4 linked regions of the Homo sapiens genome follow. The protein of the gene in region 1 purifies or fractionates together with the protein of each later gene. This does not show direct contact. Each region holds a gene or a part of one and is shown in the gene's direction. Other genes may lie near its edges.

Evidence for each region.
Region 2: the proteins of PHLPP2 (region 1) and WDR48 purify together in Homo sapiens (affinity purification with mass spectrometry; 5 studies listed by BioGRID and IntAct, with this or other methods). This does not show direct contact.
Region 3: the proteins of PHLPP2 (region 1) and TRIM46 purify together in Homo sapiens (affinity purification with western blotting; 2 studies listed by BioGRID). This does not show direct contact.
Region 4: the proteins of PHLPP2 (region 1) and USP12 purify together in Homo sapiens (affinity purification with mass spectrometry; 3 studies listed by BioGRID and IntAct, with this or other methods). This does not show direct contact.

What each region holds. Positions count from the first base shown.
Region 1 is NC_000016.10:71,651,690-71,658,716, reverse strand, and holds part of PHLPP2 (PH domain leucine-rich repeat-containing protein phosphatase 2), read left to right. Parts: coding exon 1-64; intron 65-353; coding exon 354-484; intron 485-2,035; coding exon 2,036-2,146; intron 2,147-3,282; coding exon 3,283-3,477; intron 3,478-5,695; coding exon 5,696-5,927; intron 5,928-7,027. UniProt on the Homo sapiens protein: Protein phosphatase involved in regulation of Akt and PKC signaling.
Region 2 is NC_000003.12:39,055,016-39,062,042, forward strand, and holds part of WDR48 (WD repeat-containing protein 48), read left to right. Parts: intron 1-7,027. UniProt on the Homo sapiens protein: Regulator of deubiquitinating complexes, which acts as a strong activator of USP1, USP12 and USP46. Enhances the USP1-mediated deubiquitination of FANCD2; USP1 being almost inactive by itself.
Region 3 is NC_000001.11:155,176,849-155,183,875, forward strand, and holds part of TRIM46 (tripartite motif-containing protein 46), read left to right. Parts: intron 1-83; coding exon 84-227; intron 228-346; coding exon 347-442; intron 443-1,153; coding exon 1,154-1,407; intron 1,408-1,643; coding exon 1,644-1,765; intron 1,766-1,960; exon of another isoform or gene 1,961-1,998; intron 1,999-2,783; coding exon 2,784-3,086; intron 3,087-3,586; coding exon of another isoform or gene 3,587-3,654; exon of another isoform or gene 3,655-3,831; intron 3,832-5,003; coding exon 5,004-5,301; intron 5,302-6,948; coding exon 6,949-7,027.
Region 4 is NC_000013.11:27,091,790-27,098,816, reverse strand, and holds part of USP12 (ubiquitin carboxyl-terminal hydrolase 12), read left to right. Parts: intron 1-2,986; coding exon 2,987-3,216; intron 3,217-7,027. UniProt on the Homo sapiens protein: Deubiquitinating enzyme that plays various roles in the regulation of the immune response and inflammation.

The sequences.
Region 1 (7,027 bases):
CCTTGTTGCACACTCCAACAACATCAGCATTTTCCCAGAAATACTGCAGTTGCCTCAGATCCAGGTACTTCTGTGTGCTGGAATGATGTCCTTATTGGGGGAAATGGCAGGAGAGTGAATGACATTATTTTCCTTTTATAAAGAAGAAGAAAGGAGTGTGAATGAGATTATTCTTATAAGGAAAAATATTATTGTCTTCTTATGTGCTCCAGTTTGGGACCAGAATTTATGTAATGGATTCCTGGGAAGAAATTAAGTTCCTCTTTGGGGATATAGTAAGAGATTGGACACTTGGGAGTAAAGAACTAAGTCTCTGTGATGTATTTTCTTTTGATTTCTCAATTTTTTCTTAGTTTGTAGACCTAAGTTGCAACGACTTGACAGAAATCCTGATTCCAGAGGCTTTGCCTGCTACATTACAAGACCTTGACCTGACTGGAAATACAAATCTGGTTCTGGAACACAAGACACTGGACATATTTAGGTAGGAAAAAATTTGAAATGGAATCTCTATGTGCTCTTAGCCCACCAGCCATGTGTAGGTCTTCCTTAGTACTGTGGAGATCTTGATTAATTAAAAGAACAGAATGAAGTTAGGCTATAAAGCCCCTAGGTTCTCTTCTTTGATTAAGTTATGAATAGATGTTCTATCCAGTAGTCAACCTGTTTATATTAGGACTACTCCATGGCTACTACCCCCCAACATACTGAATATTTTCACAACAGGCATAGATGTTTTAGGTGGCACAGATTATATAATATCTAAGAGACAATACAAGTTCATCCATTGTACCAAGACTTCATTGTATCAAAATACTTAACATAAATAGATGGTTGGCTAAAACATAGAAATCTTTGTTGTGCTTAGTTTTTTATTGAAACTCCTACCCCTTTGATCCTCCTACCCCTTTCCTTTCTCTCCCCTCCTTCTTTGCCAGTAGTTCAGCATACTACTTTCATCAGTCTCTCTGGAAATGAATCTTAGTCAGTCCATAGATTATTTTATTAAAAGATAATATTATTGGCCGTGTGCGGTGGCTCACGCCTGTAATCCCAGCACTTTGGGAGGCCAAGGTGGGTGGATCACGAGGTCAGGAGATCGAGACCATCCTGGCTAGCATGGTGAAACCCCGTCTCTACTAAAAATACAAAAAATTAGCCGGGCGAGGTGGCGGGCGCCTGTAGTCCCAGCTACTCAGGAGGCTGAGGCAGGAGAATGGCGTGAACCCGGGAGGCGGAGCTTGTAATGAGCAGAGATCACGCCACTGCACTCCAGCCTGGGCGACACAGCGAGACTCCTTCTCAAAAAAGAGAAAAAAAAAAAGATAATATTATTGTTGGCCGGGCGTGGTGGCTCACGCCTGTAATTCCAGCACTTTGAGGGGCCAAGGTGGGTGGATCACCTGAGGTCAGGAGTTTGAGACCAGCCTGGTCAACATGACAAAACTCCATCCCTATTAAAAATACAAAAATTAGCCGGGAGCGGTGGCTCACACCTGTAATCCCAGCACTTTGGGAGGCCGAGGCGGGCGGATCACTTGAGGTCAGGAGTTCGAGACCAGCCTGGCCAACATGGTGAAACCCCGTCTCTACTAAAAATACAGAAATTAGCTGGTTGTTACGGCAGGTGCCTGTAATCCCAGCTACTTGGGAGGTTGAGGCAGGAGAATCGTTTGAACTCAGGAAGCGAAGGTTGCAGTGAGCCGAGATTGCGCCACTGCACTCCAGCCTGGGCAACAGAGGGAGATCGTCTCAAAAAAATAAATAAATAAAATAGAATAAAATAAAGAAATACAAAAATTAGCCGGGCATGGTGGCATACACCTGTAATCTCAGCTGCTTAGGAGGCTGAGGCAGGAGAATTGCTTGAACCGGGAGGCAGCAGTTGCAGTGAGCTGAGGTCACACCACTGCACTCCAGCCTGGGTGACAAGAGGGAGACTCCATCTCAAAAAAAAAAAAAGAATACTATTGTTGGGATAGTTTTTGTAAAATACAGAAGAATATATGGTTTAATCTTCCTTCACCTCCCACAGCCATATCACAACCCTGAAAATTGATCAGAAACCTTTGCCAACCACAGATTCTACAGTTACGTCAACCTTCTGGAGCCATGGACTGGCTGAGATGGCAGGGCAGAGAAATAAGTGAGTATATTGGCCATGGAGACTGAGAAAGAAAAAAGGCAGCCCCTGGCATCTGAGAACTGGCCTGATGCTCATAATAGCTAGGCCATGTTGTTCTGTTGTACACAGACAAATCATAGAACATCAGCGTCAGATAAGATCCCTTTGGGATCATGATAACGTTTTAAGACAAAAACAATACTAATGTGTAGTCAACAGAATACCAAACACCCCCTTTCATGGCTAAGATGGGTAGATGCTACTTTCTTTACCAGTTACAGCTTTATCCTTCTGCTAATTTTCCTTCCCTATAGATAAGTTTTATACCCAGCAATAGAATGGCCTCACTTTCTGATGACACCCAGTCTAGTATGATCCTCTTCCTTAGACCCTCCCCAAAGTGACCAAACCAAAGTCCAAACCCTATACTGGGTTCTTTTCAGCAAGACTTACCTGTATACCCCGGGGTTCCATGGGGTGCACTCTCATTTGCTATAAGGGGTAATAAACTCAACTTTTTCAACCATAGGTGTGCTCTGGTGGTCTTTGACTGATAGGCCTTGACAAAGCTAATCCTTAGTCACTACTAAGAGAAAGTGCTTTATCTTACCAGCCTTTGGCAGCATTGCAAAGCTAATATGTACTGCCCATGAATGCGACTGTTTCCCCTTTCCTTAGGACATTAGCTCTTTCAGATGTTGCTTAATTATCATGTCTAGGGACTTTTCTTACGTGTAGATTACGATTTGCTAGTAGTCTTTGCCACCTTTAATTAATACTTACTTTTTAAAAGAATGCTCCTGGCCAGGCGCGGTGGCTCACACCTGTAATCCCAGGACTTTGGGAGGCCAAGGTGGGCGGATCATGAGGTCAGGAGATCAAGACCATCCTGGCTAACATCTCTACTAAAAATACAAAAAAATTAGCCCAGCGTGGTGGCAGGCACCTGTAGTCCCAGCTTCTCGGGAGGCTGAGGCAGGAGAATGGCGTGAACCTGGGAGGTGGAGCTTGCAGTGAGGCAAGATCATGCCACTGCACTCCAGCCTGGGTGACAGTGCAAGACTCCCTCTCAAAAAAAAAAAAAAAAAGAATGCTCCCTGGAGAATAATATTTTACCAGTAACTTTTCTGTTTTCTGTTTTCATGTTTCTATTATAGGCTGTGTGTCTCAGCACTTGCTATGGATAGCTTTGCAGAGGGGGTGGGAGCTGTGTATGGCATGTTTGATGGAGACCGAAATGAGGAGCTCCCGCGCCTGCTGCAGTGTACGATGGCAGATGTGCTTTTAGAAGAGGTACAGCAGTCAACTAATGACACAGTTTTCATGGCTAACACCTTCTTGGTATCTCACAGGTAAGCAGGTGGGTTGAAAAATCCCTAACTCAGTTCTACTTTTGGAAAATATATTTTTCTAAACCAGAAGGTCAGGGTCTAAATTATGGATACAGGATCAAGGAGAGAACTCACGTTGTTGTCTTCTATGATCATTCTCTATATGAGCATGGAGTGCGGGGACTTCGGCTCTTTCAAAAGCCTGTGGGGGTCATCTGTTTTCTCTGTTGAATCCAAAGGCTGCTGAGGATCTGGGAAGCCCAGAATTTATGTGCAAAATGTTGTGTGTGTATATATATGTGGTTGTACATTTTGAGGAGGAAGGTGGTCAGCTTTCATAAGATTGTCCAAGCAGTCAGTGACCTACAAAACAGTTAACCAAATACTTATCAGATTGATAACGTTTAGAATGCCTCTTTCTGGGGTTTTACCAAACTAATCTTCTAAGTAAAGTATAAGCCACTTAAGGGCAAAAACCATATACAGATGCTCCTCAACTTAGAATAGGGTTACACCCTGATAAGGATGTAAGCCTGACATCATAAGTTGAAAATGTGGTAAGTAGAAACTACATTTAATACACCTAACCTAACGAACATCATGGCTTCACCTAGCCTACGTTAAGTGTGCTCAGAACGCTTACCCCATTAGCTTATAGTTGGGCAAAATCATGTGGTGACACAGGGCACTGTATTGGTTGTTTACCCTTGTGATCAAGTGGCTGGCTGGGAGCTATGGGTCGCTACCTCTGCCCAGCATCATGAGAGAACATCGTACCACATGTCACTAGCCCAGGAAAAGATCAAAATACAAAGTACAGTTTCTACTAAATGCATACAGTATTGCTTTTGCACCATCGTGAAGTCAAAAAATCTTAAGTTGAACCATCATAAGTTGAGGACATCTGTATAACCTAACTGTAATGGAGCATTTGCATGTCAGGTGGACCGATAAAGGATAGGAACAACTGAGAGGTTGTTTGTCAACTTGTATAATCCAGGTTGAAATGGAACAGCTTGGAGCTTGAACTAGTTTTTTTTTTTTTTTTTTTTTTTTCTTTTTTGAGACGGAGTCTTCTTGCTCTGTCCCCCAGGCTGGAGTGCAGTAGTGCAATCTCGGCTCACTGCAAGCTCCGTCTCCCGGGTTCACGCCATTCTCCTGCCTCAGCCTCCCGAGTAGCTGGGACTACAGGTGCCCGCCACCTCACCCGGCTAATTTTTTGTATTTTTAGTAGAGATGGGTTTTCACCGTGTTAGCCAGGATGGTCTCGATCTCCTGACCTCGTGATCTGCCCACCTCGGCCTCCCAAAGTGCTGGGATTACAGGCGTGAGCCACTGCACCAGGCTAATTTTTTGTATTTTTAGTAGGGATGGGGTTTCACCGTGTTAGCCAGGATGGGCTTGAATTAGTTTTATCTGTCATAACACAAAGCAAAGTGTTAGGAAGAAGTCAGTTTTTCAGTAGTATAATTGAGCTAGAGACTTTGCAAAAATAAAGGGTTTAGGAAAGGGAACTCCATTTATGAAGCAACTCAAGCCAGGAATTGTAGCAAGTATTTTCCATGCTATATATTTTATCAGAGAAATTTCCTGGAGAAATGGCTTGCTGAGTGTCTGTAGCCAGAAAATGGCAGAGCTGAGATTTGAAACTAGGTCTTTCTGCTAGTGTCTGTTCCTCGTTAACATTGTTTCCAAGTACAGACGCGTGGATGCCCTGCATATGGGGGAAATGCAAGAATCATGGTCCTTCCCTCGAGGAACTTAGAACCTAAGTGAGTGGTTCTCAAAGTGTTGTTCTAGGAACAGCAGCCTCTCAGCCTCACCAGAAATTGCTTAAAGTATAGTTTATTGGGCCAGCCTCTTACCCACTGATTCAGAAACTCTGGGCCTAGGGCCCAGCAGTCCCTGTTCTGACAAGCCCTCAGGGGATTCTGATGTGTTAAAGTTTGAGAGCCCCTGAATTAGGAAGTCTTTGATCAGACACAAAAGCTATGGAGAAAGATGCAAAAGGGAGATTATCTCCCTTTTGTAAAACCTTTTCCTCAGCGAGAGTGGAAGGCAGAACTGTCTCCACCACCATCAGCCACAGCAAGTCTGCATTTAGGTGGATAAGGGTAAGGCTGGTTCACGATCACATGGTAAAAAAAAAAAAAAAAAAAAAGAAGGGATGTACGTGCAGGACCACCACTTTCTTCTAAAACTAGCCACCACGTCTTCTTTTCCTTTTCTTTCTGAACAGGAAATTAGGAATGGCTGGCCAGAAGTTGGGCTCCTCCGCTCTCCTGTGCTACATCCGCCCTGACACTGCCGATCCAGCAAGTAGCTTTAGCTTGACTGTAGCCAATGTTGGCACGTGCCAAGCAGTCCTGTGCCGAGGTGGGAAGCCAGTGCCCCTCTCTAAAGTCTTCAGCCTGGAGCAGGACCCAGAGGAGGCTCAAAGGGTGAAGGACCAAAAAGCCATCATCACAGAGGTGTGTTCCGCTCCCCGCCAGTCACTTCTGCTCCCCAAATCAGTGGAGGCTGCTTTGTGTAGAGGTGATGAAGGCCCATTTTCTTCCTATCATGCCCTGTAAATTGTATCCAATCCAGATAAAAGTTCAATGCAGATGGTTTCAGCAACAGTACTGGAGGAAAATCTGATCAGTTAGTGACTAGCACAAAGAAAAAGCAAAGTGAATTAGAAATACAAAATCCTAATTTGTGATCCTGTATATTGATAGCTGGGTTGTAAGATGGATGTTAAATATCTGCCTTAGCTAATTTCCAGCTCATCTGGTTTGTTATTCCAAATAGAAGAAAGAGTTCTCTAGTTTGACATCCCCATTCTGAAATGCAAAGTTTCAAAATGTTTTGTGTTTATACTCTATGTGGTGTAGTATGCTCTGGTGTTCTCTTTTGATAATGAAACATCAGTATTTCTACTGTTTTATAGCTTTTCTCCTTTTTTAGAAATTAACATTTTTGCTTTCAGAAGAACTTTAGCAATTACTTGTGAACATTGTTTATCACAAAGTGGAATTCCGTGATGAATTCCGTTCAGATCTTTTGAGAACTGTAAATTGGATTGTTTGTTTCTGTATTGTTGAGTTTTAAGAGTCTTTGTATATTTTGGAAACAAGTTCTTTATCAGATACCTGTTTTGCAAATATTTTCTCCCAGTCTGGGGCTTGTCTTTCCATTCTTTTAACAGTGTTTTTTTGCAGAGCTTTTAGTTTTAATGAAGGCCCACCTGTCAGTTTTTATCTCATGGATCGTGCTTTTGGTATTGTATCTAAAACTCATCGCCAAACCCAAGGTCACCTAGATTTTCTTCTGTGTTATCTTCTAGAAGTTTAGTTTTGTGTTTTACATTTTGGTCCATGGTCTGTTTTGAGTTAATATTTGTGAAAAGTGTAAGCTCTGTATCTATATTCATGTTTTGCATGTAGGTGTCCTCTTGTTCCAGGACCATTTGTTGAAAAGACTATCCTTTGTATGGTCTTTGCTCTTTGATTTTCAGAGATCAGTTGACTGTATTTGTGTGGGTCCATTTCTGGGCTGTTTTGTCAGAATTCTATATTAGAGTTCATCT
Region 2 (7,027 bases), on another chromosome or scaffold:
ACATTATTTGCTCTTATACATCAAAAAGAAAACTTCTCATCTTGGAAAAAGCATACATGGGTACTTGGAGTAAATATACTTTGTCTCCTGACTGTCTCAGACCACGAGACAGTAGCCCTGAGCTCCTTGTCAAGTTGTAGGCCAAGACAAACCCTTGAGACTTAAAAATATTGCTAAATAATCAGTGGAGGCCAGGCGTGGTGGCTCATGCCTGTAATCCCAGCACTTTGGGAGGCCAAGGTGGGCAGATCACTTGAGGTCAGGAGTTCGAGACCAGCCTGGCCAACATGGCGAAATCCCGTCTCTACTAAAAATATAAAAATTGCCGGCATGGTGGCGCATGCCTGTAATCCCAGGTACTTGGGAGGCTGAGACAGGGGAATCGCTTGAACCCAGGAGGCGGAGGTTGCAGTGGGCCGAGATTGTACCAGTGCACTCCAGCCTGGGTGACAGAGCGAGACTCCATCTCAAAAATAAAATAAAATGATACTTAAAATCAGTGGAGAGGGGTCCAAACATACTGCATATTAATTGTAGACATAATTTTAAATGAGTCCATGTCCTACCATCTTCAACTTCTAGGAAAACTAGAGATACGAGGGAAGAGGGATGGATTTGTGACTGTCAGAAACATAATCAAATATGTGAATTCAGATACATGATGTAGCATTTTCTCTGGTAACCAGGATATCAAAGCAAGTCTTTTCCATCCTTAGCAGTCCCTTGGTGGTATGATTTTCCAGCAACCTGAGTCTGTTGATTGGCTCTCTGTGCCTCCATTTTTCCTCCTGTTATGGCCTCTTCCTTCAGTGCTTCACAGTGCTTGGGGAAAAAAAATACTTCGCTTAACTTGCTGCCACTTCTAGTTAAGCTCTTTCCCCAGCTAAATGCCAAGAGGACTTTTGTGCTCACTACCGTATCCTCAGCATTTAGAATAGTGCCAGGCAACAAGTGGGTGCCTAGTTAATATTCGTTGAAAGAATTAAATCCATTTTCCTCTATTTTTCTATAGCCAGACATTTTAAATTTTTTCTCTGTACTTTAATGGATGCAGATAACAAGTTTTTAAGGTGACATGTCTTGAAACATATCAGCATATATAGTTTTCGTTCTTTAATGACCACATAGAATGGATGTACCATAATTTGTCTAGCCATTTCCTTATTGAAGATATTGCTTTGATTTTTTTTCCATCATACTATAATTTGCTTTGAAAAAACCTCCAGTTATAAAATAGTAAAGGAAGTGTTACAAAAATAAATGAAAGGACAAAGATAGATAATACAGAATGCATAAAAGATGAGGGATCAGTTTGAAAGTTCCAGTATCTGACTCATTTGAGTTCAAGAAAGAGCAAAGAAAACAGAGATGATGATTAATAATGGATACAAGAAAATTTCCCGGAGCTTAAGTGCCGCAAATTTCTAGATCGAAGGGGCTTTCTAAATGCACAGAAAAACTAATGATAGAAAAAACAAACAAGAAATGTCACAACACCAAGGAAAAAGAGAAAATCCTGAAAGCTTAGGGAAGGAGATGACGAGGGAGTGGAGGAAAGAATGAAAATAGGATCCCTTTAAAGCTGTATGAAACAGAATGGCATTGAAATCAGTGGCAACATTGGATGCTAGAGGAACTTACAGCAATGCTTTCAAGAGCTGAGAGAATTGCTAAATCAAGTGTAAATGTGGAGGAAAGACCTTTTCAGGCATGCAAGGACTAAGTTGCCAACCCATGTGCCTTTTCTTATATTACTTTCTTAAGGTATTGGGGATGTATTTCAGCAAAACTATGGAGTGAACAAAGAAAGAAGGAGGCATTAGAATTCAGGAAACAATGGCTGTAACCCAGAAAAGCAGTAAAGGAAAACACCAAAGGTGACAGCTGTGCCAGCAGATCTAGAGGGCAGTCAGCCTAGATTGTAATGAGAAGAAGGAGGGTTTGGAGGGGGAAGCCTTCTGAGAAAATAAAGGGGTGGGGGTGAGTTCTGTGGTACAGCAATTAAAATTGAAATTAAAGTGGAGAAAACCATTGAAGAAGGAAAAATTAAAACTCTAGGGAAAACAAAAAGCTCTTTGAGGAAGGAAATGTATTCATAATATAGTACTTAGTAGATAGCCTTACAGTCACAACAATATAGCACGGATTATTTGTTCAATTAAAAATAGGGATGTATCTATATTAGAAGAGTAGAGGGAGGAGATATTGAGGGTAGTTTCAGAACTACATCCTAATCTACAGTAGCATGAGTAAATCGATAATGTCTAAAATGGATGAGCCAAAAAGTTATAGGATAAGCACAATATTTAGAGAAATGCAGTTAACTATCCAGTAGCAACAACTGAGTTGCAATTAGTTACCTTTAGGGATGAAGACTAGGTGTGGGAGTCTTATCCAGACAGTAGAGAGACTGTTTTTCATTACAGTCATTACTATTTGATTTTCTAAATACAAGCAGGAATTACTTGGATAACAAATGATCAAATTTTAAAAACTAAGTAATACATGTTGTTTGTAAAACATTCAGAACACATGAAAGAGACATGAATGAGTGAAAAATCACCATAATCCCATCATTCAGAAATAACTGCTGGTTATTTTATTTTATTTTTATTTTTATTTTTTTGAGACATTGTCTCACTCTGTCTTAAGGCTGGAGTGCAGTGGCACCGTCATGGCTCACTGCAACCTCTGCTTCCTGGGTTCAAGTGATTCTCCTGCCTCAGCCTCCTGACTAGCTGGGACTACAGGTGCGCACCACCACACCCGTCTAATTTTTGTATTTTTAGTAGAGACGGGGTTTCACCATGTTGGCCAGGATGGTCTTGATCTCCTGACCTCGTGATCTGCCCGCCTTGGCCTCCCAAAGCTGGGATTACAGGCATGAGCCACTGCGCCTGGCCCCTGGTTATTTTTATATATGTATAGTCTTCAAAACTTGTGTATTTGTTCTGAAATATTTAATATTTTGAAACATTTTTATAATAATGACTATTGTACATTGTTGTGTTGGACCACACATATTTCACTAAAAATATATCATGGCTTTCCGCCCATGTTTATCAGTCTAGACCTCCATCAACTCTTTCTTATTCTTTAGAAACAGGGCTCTCATGCTGTTGCCCAGGTTGTAGTACAGTGGTGCCATCATAGCTCACTGCAGCCTCAAGCTCCTGGGCTCAAGCAGTCTTCCCACCTCAGCCTCCTAAAGCACAGAGATTACAGGCATGAGCCACCACACCTGGCCTACATCAACATTTTAAGTGATTGAATAGTGTTGTGTTTTACAGATGTGCGTGCTAGAATTTATCCAACTAGGATACTTCTAATTCTTTTGCATTTTAAAGCACACGTCTTTAGGAAATACCGTTGAAGAGGTTGGCCCAGACTGGTTTTAACAGTAATTACTTTCCACCTAGAATGAGAATTCTGACATTCAGGTTATTCTTTCACTCTTGCCTTAACCAGTCAGATAATCTCCCAGAAGTCTGGATATCAAGATTTAGATATGCTGCACAGTCTCAGTTAAAGGAAATGTGAGCTAGGTAAGCAGCCCTGGAACCCCAGAGAAAGAGAGATTGAGAGAGGCTGAAGTTGACATTGAAGCTAGCTTGGTTCCTGGTGGCTTTGGAAAGCCAATTCATGCAATGATACGTATGTCTTTTATATGCCAGACACTATAATGGGGGCACAGGGGTGGAAGGAACAAGGCAGACAAGTCCCTTGCCTTCTTGGAGCTATTATTCTAATGGAGAAGATACACCAAAAAATATAAATGTGGCTGGGCGCGGTGGCTCACACCTGTAATCCCAGCATTTTGGGAGGCCAAGGTGGGTGGATCAGAAGGTCAGGAGTTTAAGACCAGCCTGGCCAAGATGGCGAAACCCTGTCTCTACTAAAAATACAAAAATTAGCTGGGCGCCATAGCAGGCACCTGTAATCTAAGCTACTCGGGAGCCTGAGTTGGGAGAATTGCTTGAACCTGGGCAGCAGAGGTTGCAGTGAGCCAAGATCGCACCACTGCACTCCAGCCTGGGCGATACAGTGAGACTCCGTCTCAAAAAAAAAAAAAAAAAAAAAATACAGAATGTGGTAAGAACTGTTAAATAAGTAATGTAAGATAGATAGGGTCATAACCCTGAGGAGAATGAGATCAGAAAGGCCTTTCCAAGGAGACCTTTCTCCTAAGATCTGAAGAGTAAGGGTGAGTTAGACAAGATGAAAGCTGGAGAAAGAGTATTCCTATAGGGATTCGAGGGGTGGTGAATCTTCATGACACTGGCAACAGTAAATGAGAAGGTACTGGGATGGGAAAGAGCTTGATGTGTTTACGGTAACAGAAAGGAGTTTGGAATGACTGTCATAAAAGAAGCTGGGGGCAGTCAGTTTGAAATGAGTGGGGGATGCAGGGTCAGAACTAAGCATTTGAGGAGTTTGAACTTTAAATTTTGTGAAAAGCCATTGGAAAGTTTCAGCAGAGAAGTGTCATGATTTGATTTTTTAAATGCCTCTTATAAATGATGACTGTATTTCCTGACCTTGGGCTCTGTTAAGATATCCTTGTGTTGAAGTCTCCTTTAAAAAACAAACAAACAAACAAAAGCTGGTTTGAGTAGATCTCAGTTACAGTTAATTGCATCCAAAAGACTGGGTTAAAACAACATCCTTGTAGCTATTTGTGTCTGCAGCCCTGGCCCTTTTTAAAGGACAAATTTCTGGAAATTGAATTTTAAAGAACATTTCAAAGAGTTTAAAACTTTTGTCAGAAAGTGTTTATTTATCCTCAGGGGAAACAAAAATGGCAGTTATTTTAAAAAATTCTTGTATTATAGGTAAAATAATCTCATATTAATTTTGTCTTTGATTATTTATGGGGTTTTTGGCCATTTCTTTTTTAAAAAGTCCCTTTTTGTAACTGTCCCTCTTTCTGTTGGTAAATTTGACTTTTTCTTATTTTATAAGGAATCTTGTTAAGAGTAAACTTTCTTTCATATTTATTTCATTATTCTCTTAGTCTTGCTCGTGTTACTTTTTGACATTCAGAAGGTTTAAGAAAATAATAACATTGTGATAAAATTCACATACCATAAAGTGCACCCTTTCAAAGTGTACAATTCAGTGATTTTTTTGTATATTCGGAAAGTTGTTTATTGGTCACCTAACTCCAGAATGTTTAATTACTCTATGTTCATTAGCAATTACTCCCCGTTTTTCATTTTTCCCTCCTTCAATCTCCTGGCAATTACTAATCTACTTTCTGTGTGGATTTGTCTATCCTAGACATTATATATAAATAGAGTCATAAAATATGTGGCCTTTTGTAAAATATGTGGCTTCTTTCACTTAGCACATTTTCAAGGTTCATCCACGTTATAGCATGTGTCAGTACAGTGTGTGTGTGTGCATATATATATATATATATGCACACACACACATCACATTTTATTTGTTTTGTCCATTGATGGATATTTGGGTTGTTTCCACTTTTGTAACATTATTGTGAATGCCACAATGCTGTGAACATTCTTGTACATAGAAAAGGTTTTGACTTGTATTTGGCCAGATCACCATTGCTCTTTTCCTTCGTAAAGATTACCATCTTTCTTGGCATGTTGGAAGAGTTTTCTCTGGCAAGGGACTATGTAAATATTCACCTGTCTTTTAAAAATTATTTTTATGCTGGCCAGGTGCAGTGGCTCACGCCTGTAATCCCAGCACTTTGGGAGGCTGAGGCGGGTGGACCACTTGAAACCCAGCCTGGCCAACATGGTGAAACCACCATCTCTACTAAAAATGCAAAAATCAGCTGGGCACAGTGGCATATGCCTGTAATCCCAGCTACTCAGGAGGCTGAGGCACGAGAATTGCTTGAACCTGGGAGGTAGAGGATGTAGTAAGCCAAGATCGGGCCACTGCTTTCCAGCCTGGGTGACAGAGCAAGATTCTCTCAAAAAATAAAAACAAAAATTATTTTTATGGTTATTAAATTTCAGTCTTTAATTCATAGAAAAATTCGTTTTTGGTTTAAGATGTGGAGAAAGGGTATAATTGTTCCTAATAGAATCACTATAGGTACTTGAGATAATTTTTTTTAATTATTATACTTCAAGTTCTAGGGTACATGTGCACAACGTGCAGGTTTGTTACATAAGTATACATGTGCCATGTTGGTTTGTTGCACCCATCAACTTGTTATTTACATTAGGTATTTCTCCTAATGCTATCCCTCCCCCAGCCCCCTACCCCCCAACATGCCCCAGTGTGTGATGTTCCCTGCCCTGTGTCCATGTGTTCTCATTGTTCAGCTCCCACTTACGAGTGAGAACATGTGGTGTTTGGTTTTCTGTCCTTGTGATAGTTTGCTGAGAATGATGGTTTCTGGCTTCATCCATGTCCCTGCAAAGGACATGAACTCATCCTTTTTTATGGCTGCATAGTATTCCATGGTGTATATGTGCCACATTTTCTTAATTCAGTCTATCATTGATGGACATTTGGGTTGGTTCCAAGTCTTTGCTATTGTGAATAGTGCTGCAATAAACATACGTGGGCATGTTTCTTTATAGTAGAATGATTTATAATCCTTTGGGTATATACTCAGTAATGGGATGGCCGGGTCAAATGGTATTTCTAGTTGTAGATTCTTGAGGAATCGCCACACTGTCTTCCACAGTGGTTGAACTACTTTACACTCCCACCAACAGTGTAAAAGCATTCCTATTTCTCCACATCCTCTCCAGCATCTGTTGTTTCCTGACTTTTTAATGACTGCCACTCTAACTGGCATGAGATGGTATCTCATTGTGGTTTTGATTTGCATTTCTCTGATGGCCAGTGATGATGAGCATTTTTTCTTGTGTCTGCTGCAGAAATGTCTTCTTTTGAGAAGTGTCTGTTCATATCCTTTGCCCACTTTTTGATGGGGTTGTTTTTGTTGTTGTTGTTGTTGTACATTTGTTTAAGTTCTTTGTAGATTCTGTATATTAGCCCTTTGTCAGATGGGTAGATTGCAAAAATTTTCTCCCAT
Region 3 (7,027 bases), on another chromosome or scaffold:
AGGGCACCAAACTGCTGTAGTGGTAGCATAGCACCCTTACCCACACCATTGTCTGACCATCACATTGTTCTTTGTGTCCCTAGGGCCTTATGTGCCCAGACCACAAGGAAGAGGTGACCCACTACTGCAAGACATGCCAACGCCTGGTATGTCAACTCTGCCGGGTGCGGCGCACCCACAGCGGGCACAAGATCACACCAGTGCTCAGTGCCTACCAGGCCCTCAAGGTAAGGACCCCCCTTATCCAACCCTAGTGCTAACTCACACTCTTACCCTCTTGCACCTCCTCCCAACTGCTGGCTTCTGCAGAGCTGGGCTTGATGCCCACCTCTTTCTTCCCCCTCAGGACAAGCTGACAAAGAGCCTGACATACATCCTGGGAAACCAGGACACGGTACAGACCCAGATCTGTGAGCTGGAGGAGGCCGTGAGGCACACCGAGGTGAGGGAGGGCACAGAGGTAGGCCCTGGGCCCTGCCTGGGAGTAGGGGCAGGAAGGGGGTGTGGGTGATCATGACCCAATCACCTTGTTGCTAGCTCAGGAAGCCCGTGAGGTGTCCAGGTTCTGGTTAAACCAGGTTTGCAGGAACACCAGTGCCCCAGGCCAGGCTGTACCTGGGCTGCAGGAGGGGGCAGGGTGGCTATAGCTCAGGAGAGTGCTCGAAAAACCCCATGCATAGCTCAAAAAACCCCACGCGTAGCTCAGATGCTCTCAGGCTCAGGTGCCTACCGAGGATGTCACGCATTCCCAGTGCTAGAGTGAGGTGATGACTGATACCTTCTGCCAGGTTGCTTGAGCTGGCTGACATGGGGATGGACAACTAAGGATGGCATAGATGCCAGTGGACATTAATTAGTGCAGTCCAAGTGGACATTAGGGTAGCCATGGCCTCGTTCATTTGGATGAGTCACTAAGGGGCAGAGATTATGATGTGGGGTTCCGGGAAGGTTGGCACAAATGACCAGGAGTTGAGTCCATCTAGAGGTGCCTTTGCAGCCATGAGCCCAGGCCCTGTAGGAATGGGTGAGTAGGATTTCCCCAGATCCCTTGTGACCTTAGCCATGCTGTGGCATCCAAGGAGGCCAGCACAAGTGCTGCCTCCAAAAAGAAGATAGTAAGTCACGCATCCTTTGGGTGTTGCTCCCTGGGCAGGTGAGTGGTCAGCAGGCCAAGGAGGAGGTGTCGCAGCTGGTGCGGGGGCTGGGGGCTGTGCTGGAGGAGAAGCGGGCATCACTGCTTCAGGCCATTGAAGAATGCCAGCAGGAGCGGCTGGCCCGTCTCAGCGCCCAGATCCAGGAGCACCGGAGCCTGCTGGATGGCTCAGGTCTGGTGGGCTATGCCCAGGAAGTACTTAAGGAAACAGACCAGCCTTGCTTTGTGCAAGCCGCCAAGCAGCTGCACAACAGGTACTCAGGGGCATGGGCTCCTAGGGGGGCAGGGACATCATGGATGTGACCAACATCTAGGACAATGTCTACAGTACTGCCAGGTGGAGAACTGGCATTCTAAGGATTCTCATGAGGCCAAACTGATACCAGCTCCCAAAGCAGTTCCCAAGGCTCTAGGGGCAAGCAAGACAGAATTGAGGGGAAGGGAGACTGCCCACATGGCAGTGCCTGACCCTTTCTTGCCCCCATCCCAGGATTGCCCGAGCCACTGAAGCCCTCCAGACATTCCGGCCAGCTGCCAGCTCCTCCTTCCGCCATTGCCAGCTCGACGTGGGACGTGAGATGAAGCTGCTGACAGAGCTTAACTTCCTGCGAGGTAAGGAGATGGCCAGGCCCCATGCCCAACCAGAGCCTTCTTCCCTTCCTCCCCAGCAGCGGGCCCGGGGGGCAGTGCCTACCGGGGACCTCCCCGGCCTCCTGCCCGGCCTGGCCAGCCATTCCTCCCACCCAGCCCACCCTGCCACACCGTCCTACCGCGCTCAGCGCTGCTTCTCCCTCTCTTTGTTTGTAGGCTGTGGCCACCGCGGACTCTGCTCCGGAGCACCCCAGGCAAGTCAGCGGCCCTGCCCCGGGGGCCCTGCCCGCCGCCGGGCCCCCTTCCCACCCCGCTGCTCCCACGCATCTCAGCCAACCACTCATTGCTTCCTTCTCTTTCCTGCCTTGCCCCGACCTCGTGGTCCTCCCACTGGACCAATGCCCTGTCTCCCTTCTGCCTTCTTCAGGCGCTTGCGTAATCCTGGCCCTTCTGACCTTTTGTCCTTGTGACCCTTGCCCTCTGGCCTTGCACTTCCTTTCCCTTGACCTCCAACCCCTGCCCTCAGCTTTTGCTGTCCCTCTGTTGTCCCCACTTTCCACCTCGCTGCCTCCTAAATCTCTCTTCTGAGCCTGGTCCCCTTCCTTCCTGCTCAGCGCCCTCTTGCCTGTGGGCTCCAGTGGCCTTTGCCTGCCCCTCCCTGGGGCTCCTCTTAATTCATAGAATAACTGAGCTGCAAGGGCCCCCAGAACTTACCTGATCTGATACCCTCATTTGACAGGGGAGGAAACTGAGGCCCAGAAAGGGGAAGTGACTTATTCCAGGCCAGAGTGAGGTAGCAGCAGCCCAGAACTAGCACACAGGTGTCCTGACCCCCAGCCCAGCGCTTTCCTGCCTCGTTCTCTCTTGGGCCCTGCCCTACCCCTCCTGTGCCCAGTTCCCAGATGAGCCCTTCCCCAGCTCCCTCTCACCCACACTCACCCCCCCGGCTCCCGCTGCTTTCCCTTTTCCTGCCTGCCCCTGCCCTCCATGCCAGGCCAGTGGCCAGGCCCTGACTGACACCCGCTGTCTCTTCCAACAGTGCCTGAGGCCCCCGTCATTGACACCCAGCGCACCTTTGCCTATGATCAGATCTTCCTGTGCTGGCGGCTGCCCCCCCATTCACCACCTGCCTGGCACTATACCGTTGAGTTCCGGCGCACGGATGTGCCTGCTCAGCCAGGCCCCACCCGCTGGCAGCGGCGGGAGGAGGTGAGGGGCACCAGTGCCCTGCTTGAGAACCCCGACACGGGCTCTGTGTATGTGCTGCGTGTCCGCGGCTGCAACAAGGCCGGCTACGGCGAATACAGTGAAGATGTGCACCTGCACACGCCCCCGGCACCTGGTGAGTGGGCAGGCACAGGTGGTCGTGCAAAGGGCATGGGGTATGCCAGGGCCTAGGCCCTGACGGTTGGTTCCGGTGGCCGCTAGAGAGGCCATATAACATAGTAGGTCTCACACACACTAGCTCTGGAGCTAGACTGCTTGGGTTCAAATCCCAGCTCTGCCTCTTGCCAACTGTGTGGGTGGCTTCTGGCAAGTTTTTACCCTCTCTGAACTTCAGAGTCCTTTTCTGTAGGGATAACGATAATACTGGCCAGGTGCAGCGGCTCATGCCTGTAATCCTAGCACTTTGGGAGGCCAAGGAGGGAGGATTGCTTGAGGCCAGGAGTTCAAGACCAACCTGGCCAACACAGCGAGACCCGATCTCTAAAAAAATAAATAGGCCAGGCGAGGTAGCTCATGCCTGTAATCCCAGCACTTTGGGAGGCCGAGGCGGGCGGATCACAAGGTCAAGAGTTTGAGACCAGCCTGGCCAACATGGTGAAACCCCGTCTCTACTAGGAATACAAAACTTAGCCAGGCGTGGTGGTGCGTGCCTACAATTCCAGCTACTCGGGAGGCTGAGGTAGGAGAATCGCTTGAACCTGGGAGGCGGAGGTTGCAGTGAGCTGAGATCGCGCCACTGGACTCCAGCCTGGACAACAGAGCAAGACTCCGACGTCTCGGAAAAATAAATAAATAAATAAATAAATAAAGGCCAGGCAAGGTGGCTCACACCTGTAATCCCAGCACTTTGGGAGGCCAAGGTGGGTGGATCCCCTGAGGTTGGGAGTTTGAGACCAGCCTGACCAACATGGAGAAACCCCATCTCTACTAAAAATACAACATTAGCTGGGTGTGGTGGCGCATGCCTGTAATCCCAGCTACTTGGGAGGCTGAGGCAGGAGAATTGCTTGAACCCAGGAGGCGGAGGTTGCGGTGAGCCGAGATCGCGCCATTGCACTTCAGCCTGAGCAACAAGAGTGAAACTCTGTCTCAATAAATAAGTAAATAAAATACGTAAAAAATAAATTATTTTTGGCTGGGCACAGTGGCTCACGCCTGTAATCCCAGCACTTTGGGAGGCCGAGGTGGATGGATCACGAGGTCAGGCGTTCAAGACCAGCCTGGCCAACATAGTGAAACCCCGTCTCTACTAAAAATGAAAATGAAAATAATTAGCTGGGTGTGGTTGCAGGCGCCTGTAATCCCAGCTACTTGGAAGGCTGAGGCAGGAGAATGGCTTGAACCTGGGAGGCAGGGGTTGCAGTGAGCCAAGATTGCGCCACTGCACTCCAGCCTGGGGAACAGTGTGAGACTCCGTCTCAAAAACATATATATATTTTTAAAAAATGATAATGCTTACCTCATAGAGTTGCAAGAATTCAACTGGTTTGAGACGATCAATGGGAGTCTGAGTACAGTGTCCGGCTCATGGTTAGGGCTCAAGAATGTTACTAAAGTGACTAGAAAATAGTTCGGACTCCAGGGGGTGGGCATAAGAGGGAAGCCTTGCCACCCAAATAGGGGCTGGGTATAAGGGCCAGGTGTGAACCCAGAGTATGGGCTGGAAGGCACAGATTGATGGTGATGGGAATGTCACCAGGTGGAACAGAATAGTGGGAACTGTCCATGGGGCTGGCCACAAGTAAGGGGTTCGAGGGAGCCCCATGAGTCAGCCAGGTCCGGAGCACTGACTTCTGTGCCCACTGCCATCACAAAAACTCTCTGGGGTCCCACGCCCATTTGGAATGCCCCCTTCTTTTTTCCTCATGCCCCCCATTCCAGTTTCCCATGTCCTGTTCTCCTGAACCCCCTGCCTGTTCCTGGTGACTGAACCCCCTTGCAACGCGTTCCCTGTTCTGCAGTCTCACAGCCCCCAGTGCCAGTGTTTGTCCCTGAAGTTCTTGCTCCATCTCAACCCTCTCCCTCCTTCCAGTCCTGCACTTCTTCCTCGATAGCCGCTGGGGCGCAAGCCGAGAGCGGCTGGCTATCAGCAAGGACCAGCGAGCAGTACGGAGTGTTCCAGGGCTGCCCCTGCTGCTGGCTGCTGACCGGCTGCTGACCGGCTGCCACCTGAGTGTGGATGTGGTCCTGGGCGACGTGGCTGTGACCCAGGGCCGCAGCTACTGGGCCTGCGCCGTAGACCCAGCCTCCTACTTGGTCAAGGTGGGCGTCGGGCTGGAGAGCAAGCTTCAAGAAAGTTTCCAGGGTGCCCCCGATGTGATCAGCCCCAGGTCAGACCCCTCTGGAAGGGATGGGGTGTGGGGGTCCTGGTGGGAGTGAGGGGCACAGAAGGGGTGGCAAGTGGAGCACAGACTTGCTAGGGTGGGGCTGGGAGGGGATTAGGAGGAAGTAGTAGGAGCCTGGAAGCCAGGCTGGGAGGCCTGTGTCCAGGAGACGCATGGGCTCAGCAAAAGGGCTTTTGAGGACTGATTTTCAGAGCATGTCGTGTGGTCAGGGAAAGGGATGATAGAAGAGGGAGCCATCTCTGCTTCCTTCCAACCATCTGTCACTCTGGATCAACACACCATCTCTCCAAGCATCTGTGTCCTTTCTTCCTAACACTCCATTTCCAACATACCTTCTCCATAAAACCTTTGCTCTCCAAGACCTCCTTCACCCGTATCTTAAAATTCTTCCCTTAGCCGGATGCGGTGGCTCACGCCTGTAATCCCAGCACTTTGGGAGGCTGAGGCAGGCAAATCACTGGAGGTCGAGAGTTCGAGACCAGCTTGACCAACATGGAGTGACCCCATCTCTACTAAAAATACAAAAAAAATAGCTGGGCGTGGTAGCGCATGCCTGTAACCCCGGCTACTCGTGAGGCTGAGGCAGGAGAATCACTTGAACCCGGGAGGTGGAGGTTGCGGTGAGCCAAGATTGTGTCATTGCACTGCAGCCTGGGCGACAAAAGCAAAACTCCTTCTCAAAAAAAAAAAAAAAAAAATTCTTCCCTTAAACATCCCACCTCCATAACCCTCCTCTCCCCAACTCCCTGTTTTTTTTTTTTTTTGAAATGGAGTCTCGCTCTGTCGCTCAGGCTGGAGTCTAGCGGCGCGATCTCCGCTCACTGCAAGCTCCACCTCCCGGGTTCACACCATTCTCCTGCCTCAGCCTCCCGAGTAGCTGGGACTACAGGCACCCGCCACCATGCCCAGCTAATTTTTTGTATTTTTAGTAGAGACGGGCTTTCACCGTGTTAGCCAGGATGGTCTCAATCTCCTGACCTCGTGATCCGCCCACCTTGGCCTCCCAAAGTGCTGGGATTACAGGCGTGAGCCACTGTGCCTGGCCCCAACTCCCTATTTAACACCCTCCCACTAATGCTTTGCATCCTAAGCCTTCTCCCCAGCACTCTATCCCCCAACACCTTATTTCTTCAAAATGCTTTCTCCCCAACACAAACCCCTCCTAAACCCCATTGTCCCCAACCCCGCATACCTCTAACACCCTTCATTTGTGACACCAATCCACCCTCATCTCTCTCCCGACACCCACCTTCCCAACATCCTTTCTCTTCTTAGTCACTAATCTCGGATTCTTCCAATGTCCTCTAATCCTCAGAACCATCTCCCCAGCATGATTTCCCCAAGACCATTTTTCTCAATGCCTTTCCGCGGGCTATACCAATGCCATGTCTTTCCTGTCCGCCTGCCCCTCTCTTGCCAATGTGCTTTCCTCTCAGTGCTCTCTTTCCACCAAACCCAAACCCCTGACCCTATACTCTAACCCCTGCCTCTTCAGCGTTTTCTTCTCAACACCCAAAATCCATCCCTTCAACCTCTTGCTCCTTAACATTCCATCCTTCCAGCGTCTCCCTCTGGTACCTCATCCGTCACTCCATCCCTCAACAATCTCGTCCCCAACACCCGCTTCTGCAGGTACGACCCGGACAGCGGGCACGACAGCGGTGCCGAGGATGCCACAGTGGAGGCGTCGCCACCCTTCGCTTTCCTAACC
Region 4 (7,027 bases), on another chromosome or scaffold:
TATAGCATAATTTAAATAAATCATTCTCCTGTTGATAAACATTTAGGATATTTTCAGACTTCTGCTGTTATAAATAAGCAGCCGTATTTATGCTTGTTTTGGTACATGCACAGATACTTACCTGGCATCGATACCTGGGAGAACTAGGTTGCATTATTTTAAATCTGTTACCAAAATTGCCTTTACAACGTGCCATACCAGTTTATACTCCCAGCAGCAACAGTTGAGAATGTCCATTTCTCCATACTCAAGCTAACACTGGATGGAAACTAAGTCAATTTTTATTTTGCCAAAGTGATGGGCAAAATGATATTTTGTCATTGTTTTAATTGTTATTTCCCAGTCCCTTGTCATGTATTATTTAGGCATTTGTATTTCTACTCTGAATTGGCTATTTTCCTTTGCCAGTTTTTAAAATTTTTTTTCTTGTTTTGTAAAGGGTTTTTTTTTAAATATTCTGTATATTAAACCTTTACATAGTCTGGATATTAATATGCAAATAATTATCCTTGTTCGTCACTTGTCTTCATTTATGTTGACTTTGCCATACAGAAGTTCATAGTTTTTACATAGTCAGTCTTTGATGTGTTTTGTATTCTGTTCAGTAGCAACAACAATTATATAGGTTGAGCATCCGTAATCCAGAAATCTGAAACTTTTTGAGCTGCATGATGCCACATGGGGTGGCTGAGGTAGTAACAACTTTACTTTCTGATGGTTCAGTGTACACAAATTTACTTCCCTGCACAAAGTTTTTAAAAATACTATATGAAGTTGCACTCCATCCTGGGCAACAAGAGCAAAACTCCATCTCAAAAAAAAAAAAAAAAAAGTACTATATAAAGTTACCTCCAGGCTATAAGGTGTATATGAAACAAATGAATTTCATGTTTAGATTTGAGTCACATCCCCAAAATATCTCATTATGTGTATGAAAATATTCTCAAATCTGAAGCAGTCTGAAGTCCCAACCACTGCTGGTCCCAAGCATTTTAGATAAAGGATATTCAACATGTAGTGATATTGCCAATATTGTTACTGTGGTTGTTGTTGAACAGAATACAAAACCTATTGTTGTATTCTAAGCACTTTTAATCTTCCTCCCAGCCTTGTGAGGTACAGGTACTGCTGTGAGCCCCATTTTTCAGATGAGGAATTATGGAACAGGGAGCTTGAATAAGTTGCCTATGCCACGCGTGCAGTTAGAAGTAGAACCATAGCACCAACCCAGACAGCCTTGCTCTAGCAGCTGTGCCCTCCTACCCCCATAAAAAGCTTCACTCATTCCCTTTCTGTTTTTACAATGACTTTGCAAAGAAAGATGGTATTCTGTTTTGTTGTTGTTGTTTTTGAGATGGAGTTTTGCTCTTGTTGCCCAGGCTGGAGTGCAATGGCGCAATCTCGGCTCACTGCAACCTCTACCTCCCGGGTTCAAGCGATTCTTCTGCCTCAGCTTCCCAAGTAGCTGGGATTACAGGCATGTGCCACCATGCCCAGTGAATTTTTTGTATTTAGTAGAGACGGACTTTCACCATGTTGGCCAGGCTGGTCTCAAACTCTTTACCTCAGGTGATCCACCTGCCTTGGCCTCCCAGAGTGCTGGATTATAGGCATGAGCCACTGCGCTTGGCCTGCTTTTTTTTTTTTTTTAAACTTACTATGGGATTGAACATTTTCTCATGTTTTTTAGCCTTTTGATTGTTTTTTTCTTATAAATTGATTGCCATTTATAAGATTGTCCAGTTTGGTTTTCTTTTATATGAGATTTGCTTTTATATGTTGAAAATGTTAATAATTTTCAGGTTTCACTTTTTTTAAAACTTTTTTAAAGATTTCTAATACATAGAACTTAATTTTATGTAGTCATATCTGTATCTCTTCTAAAATGTAATTGTTAATTTGTTTTATCTTAGACTTTCCCTAAATTTTTTTCTAAATTTGTATGCATTCATTTTTAAAATGTAAAATCTTTCTGGAACTTATTAAATGTACATTGAGGATCTAAAAATAAAATGTCCTAAATAGGTAATTTTTCTCAATGCATTTTATTGACCAATTCATGTATGTTCTTGTGTGTGGGCTTATACTGGGCATTACTTTGTGTGTGGCATGGTGGAGTCAGGCTGCCCAGTTTGAATCCTGGCTCTGCCATTTCTTGGCAGTGTGACTGTACTCTGTCTCGTCCCATTTTCATGTTTACAAATAAAGTTAATAACAATATTACATGGTTGTTGGGGATCAAATGAGATACTGCCTCTAAAGTCCTTACTGTTCTATGGTAGAGTTGTATATTGCCAAGCACAGGGTAAAGCACGCTTGATGTTAGCACCACCAATATTTCAGTTATATTTACTCATTTGTGTAACTGCAGGGAACGTTTTGTGGAATTATAAAGTCTCACATTTGGAAGGGACTTGAGATTATCTGGATTATATAGATAATTCTTGATAACATGATTCTTAAACCTGACTCTACATCAGAGTTAGTTGGAGGAGCTTTGAAAAGCCCCACGTTCTGGGCTTACCCCTTATCAACTAAATCAGAATCCCTGGGATGTATGGTTCAGTAATTTATTTTTGATAAACTTTGTGGGTCTAAAGCAGTTGGCTTGGCATTGGCAAATGGTTGTCCAACTTCTGCTTTAAAGCTTGCCAAGTTGAAATATTTGTGAAATAATAAGTCAGGTAAGCTAATAAGCAATTTCTTCTTAAATTCTCAGTATCTGTTATGCCAATATATAAGGATAGGTTTTGCCCTTTTCTCAGGATCAATTAGTAGTATTTTTAAACAAGATTTTAATTAATTTTACATTTTCCCCAAATACAGATAAAAGTTTTAGATGCGAAAGTTATTTGTTATACATTACAAAAACATTGTGCATTTATATTTTAGTTCTGATCCAATACTAGATATTCTTTTATAAATTGGTTTTTTATGAAGTTATGAATTCTGAAATAATTCTCTAATATAATGTTTTTATTTTCAGAGCTTTTTGACAACTACATGCAACAAGATGCCCATGAATTCTTAAATTACCTACTAAATACAATTGCTGATATTTTACAAGAAGAGAGAAAGCAGGAAAAACAAAATGGTCGTTTACCTAATGGTAATATTGATAATGAAAATAATAACAGCACACCAGACCCAACGTGGGTTCATGAGATTTTTCAGGGAACATTAACTAATGAAACCAGATGTCTTACTTGTGAAACTGTAAGTATATCATACAATTTTGTATAGAGAAAAATTGAATTACTATGTTAAAGGTTGTTCTTTGAGAAAGACAGAATGGAAGATGAACTTGAAAGTTGTAATTCTTAGGTATAGGAGTTAAAGATGTATTTTTCAGTTAAAAGGAATCTGTCTGTATTCTTAATGTAATGTTGCTTATTGACAATGAATACCTGAGGTGATAGAAAGATACTTACTGTAGCTTGAACTGTTTGATTTTCTTTCAGTTTAGGAGGCCATAGAACCATGTTGTGGAAATTATGTCTTATGACATAATCTCATAGGATCATACAGATCAGGGAGGCATATTAATTCGTTTTTCCTTTTTCTACGATTACCTTTAGTATCCATTGTTGGGATAAAAACTAAAGCATACAGTGTACCCTCAAGGAGGGGAAAAAATCCCACTTGCTGGACACTTTGTAAAGATGAAGCTTGAAAATTGTTACACCCAGGCTGGAGTGCAGTGGCCCAATCTCAGCTCACTGTAGCCTCGACTTCCTGGGCTCAAGCAATCCTTCCATCTAAGCCTCATAAGTAGCAAGGACCACGAGCACGTGCCACCACACCCAGCTAATTTTTAAATTTTTATTTTTTGTAGAGACAGGGGTCTTACTGTGTTGCTCAGGCTGGTCTTGAACTCCTGGGCTCAAGCAGTCTTTCCACCTTGGCCTCTCAAAGTTCTGGGATTACAGGTGTGAGCCATTATGCCCGGCCAGTCATGTTCTTTATAGCATTTTCCCTATTCAGTACAGAATCCAATTTAGAGGGGGACATTGCATTTAGTTGTTTCTTTAGCCTTCTTTAACCTGAAACATTTACATGGTCTTTTTTTTTTTGAGAATATGCCTCCCTCACCTTTTTAAAATCAGATGTTCTCATATTTAGTTTCTCTGATGTTTCTTCCTAACTAGATGCAGGTTATGCATTCATGGCTAATAATAATATATCATTCATGTTGTGTTTTTCTCGGGGCATCACGTCTGTAGGCACACAATATCCATCTGCCTCTCATTGGTGAAATTAATTTTTGATCACCCAGTCAAGGTGGTGGTGTTTCTCCATTTGATTTATTTATTTGGAGACAGGTTCTTGCTCTGTCGCCCAGGCTTTAGTGCAGTGACACTGTTATAGATCATTATAGCCCCAAGACTCCTGGGCTCAAGTGATCCTCCTGCCTCAGCCTTCTGAGTAACTAGGACTACAGTGCATGCCATCACCCCCAGCTAGTTTTTAAACTTTTTTGAGACAGAGTCTTGCTGTGTTACCCAGGCTGGTCTTGAACTCCTGCCCTCAAGTAACCCACCTGCCTCAGCCTCCCAGAGTGTTGGGATTACAGACATGATCCACCGTGCTGGGCCAGTTTCTCCACTTTATGATGACTTTTTTTTTTTTTTTTAAATCCCCTTGCAATTAGTAGGCAGTCTGTGGGGAGACACAAATACCTCCCTCCTCATCAAAATCTCACCCAAGATTTAGCATGCATTTATGATTTTGCCTGATCTCATCTTTACTGTGACAGTTGTGCTGCTAGTTTTTAATAACATTGGAAAATAGGGTCCACAAGCAAGAAAGCTAAGAGTCCTGTAAAGTCTCCATAGTTTTGCCTTTTCCAGAATATTGTGTAGTTGAAATCATATAGTATGCAGCCTGTTTGGATTAGCTTCTTCCACTTAGCAATATGCATTTAAGGTTCTTCCATGTCTTTTTAAGGCTTGATAACTTATTTCCTTTATTTTTGGCTGAGCAACATTTCCACTGTAAGGATGTGCTGCAGTTTTTAAAGTTCATTCACTTACTGAAGGACGTCTTGGTTGCTTCCAAGTTTTGCCAATTATGAATAAAGCTGCTATAAACATTTGTGTGCAGGTTTTTGTGTGGATGTGAGTTTTTACTTCCTTTGTGTAAATATCAAGGAGCAGGATCACTGGATTGTATGGTAAGAGTATACTTAGTTTGATAAGAAACCAACATTCTGTCTTCCACAGTGGCTGTACGATTTTTCCTTCTTACCAGCAGTGAATGAGAGTTCTTGTTTCTCCACATCCTTGCTGACATTTGGTGTTGTCAGTTGGATTTTGGCCATTCTAATAAGTGTGTAGTGTTATCTCATGTTAATTTGCAAGGCCCTAATGACATATGATGTTGATCATCTTTTTGTCTGCTTATTTATCATCTATATCTCTTTAGTGATGTGTCCAGATCTTTTGTCCATTTTTTAATCAGGCTGTTTTTCTTTGAGTATTGTCGAATTTTAAGTGGGTTTTTTTTTTCGGGTATAATTTTGGCTACTAGTTCATAATCAGGTGGGTCTTTGGCAAATATTTTCTCCCAGTCCGTGACTTGTTTTTCATTCTTTTAACACTGTTTTTGGCAGAGTGGAAGTTTTTTTTTTTTGAGATGGAGTTTCGCTCTCGTTGCCCAGGCTGGAGCGCAGTGGCTCACCGCAACCTCTGCCTCCTGGGTTCAAGTGGTTCTCTTGTGTCAGCCTCCCTAGTAGCCAGGATTACAGGCACGCGCCACCACGCCCGGCTAATTTTGTAATTTTAATAGAGACAGGGTTTCTCCATGTTGGTCAGGCTGGTCTTGAACTCCCGACCTCAAGTGATCCACCCACCTTGGCCTCCTAAAGTGCTGGAATTACAGGCGTGAGCCACCGGGCCTGGCTGGCAGAGCAGAAGTTTTTAATGTTTTAATTATCAGTTTTTAATTTTAATAAAGTCCAACTTTTTCTTTCATGCATTATACTTTTGGTGTTGTATCTAAAAAGTCATCCATAAACTAAAGGTCCCTTAGAATTTCTCCTATGTTATCTAGGAATTATATAGTTTTTCATTTTATATTTAAGTCTATGATCCTTTTTGAGTTAATTTCTGTATAAGGTATTAGAAAGTTTATTCTGGGTTAATTTTTTTGCATGTGGATGTCCATCTGCTCCAGCATCATTTGTTTAAAAGACAATTCTTTCTCTGTTGAATTGCCTTTGCTCCTTTGTCAAAGATGAGTTGACTCTTATTTGTGTGAGTGTATTTCTGGTCACTGTCTTCTGTCCTGTTGGTCCGTATATCTGTTCTTTCCCCACTACCACACTGTCTTGATTACCGTAGCTTTAGAGTAAGTCTTAAAGTCAGGTAGTCTCAGTCCTCTGACTTTGTTCTTCTTCAATATTTTGTTGGCTATTCTGGGTCTTTTGCCTCTCCATGTAAACTTTAGAATCAAGTTCGTCGATATCCACAAAATAACTTGCTGGGATTTTGATAAGGATTTTGCTGAACCTATAGATGAAGTTGGGAAAAAAATGATATCTTGACAAAGTTGAGTCTTCTTATCTAAGTACATGCACTGTCTCCCCTTATTTACCACTTTTTTTGCTATCTTTCATTGGAGTTTGGTAGTTCTTCCTCATATCAATACCATGCGTGTTTTGTTAGATTTATATTTAAGTATTCATTTTGGGGGGTGCTAAGCACCAACTATGCCAGGTAGAAGATGGTAGAAGATGAGTAAGACATAAGCCTCTGATCACAAGATACTCCTATGGTAATGAAGACTGGCAAAGCAGTGTTCAGGCAGTTCCAGTACAGTGTGTTATCGTATGTGTATGCACAGGATGCCATGCCAGCCAGAGAATAGTAGACCTAACCCAGGTGGGAGTGGGAAGGATTTGGACAGGTAAAGGACCAGCTTCCTGGAGGAGCTCATGCTTGTATTTTAGAAATGCAATTGGTAATGTCTCAGGTGGTAGGAAGCTGGTGTCTATAACACCCTTTTCTGGTGTTCTCTATGAGGGTTC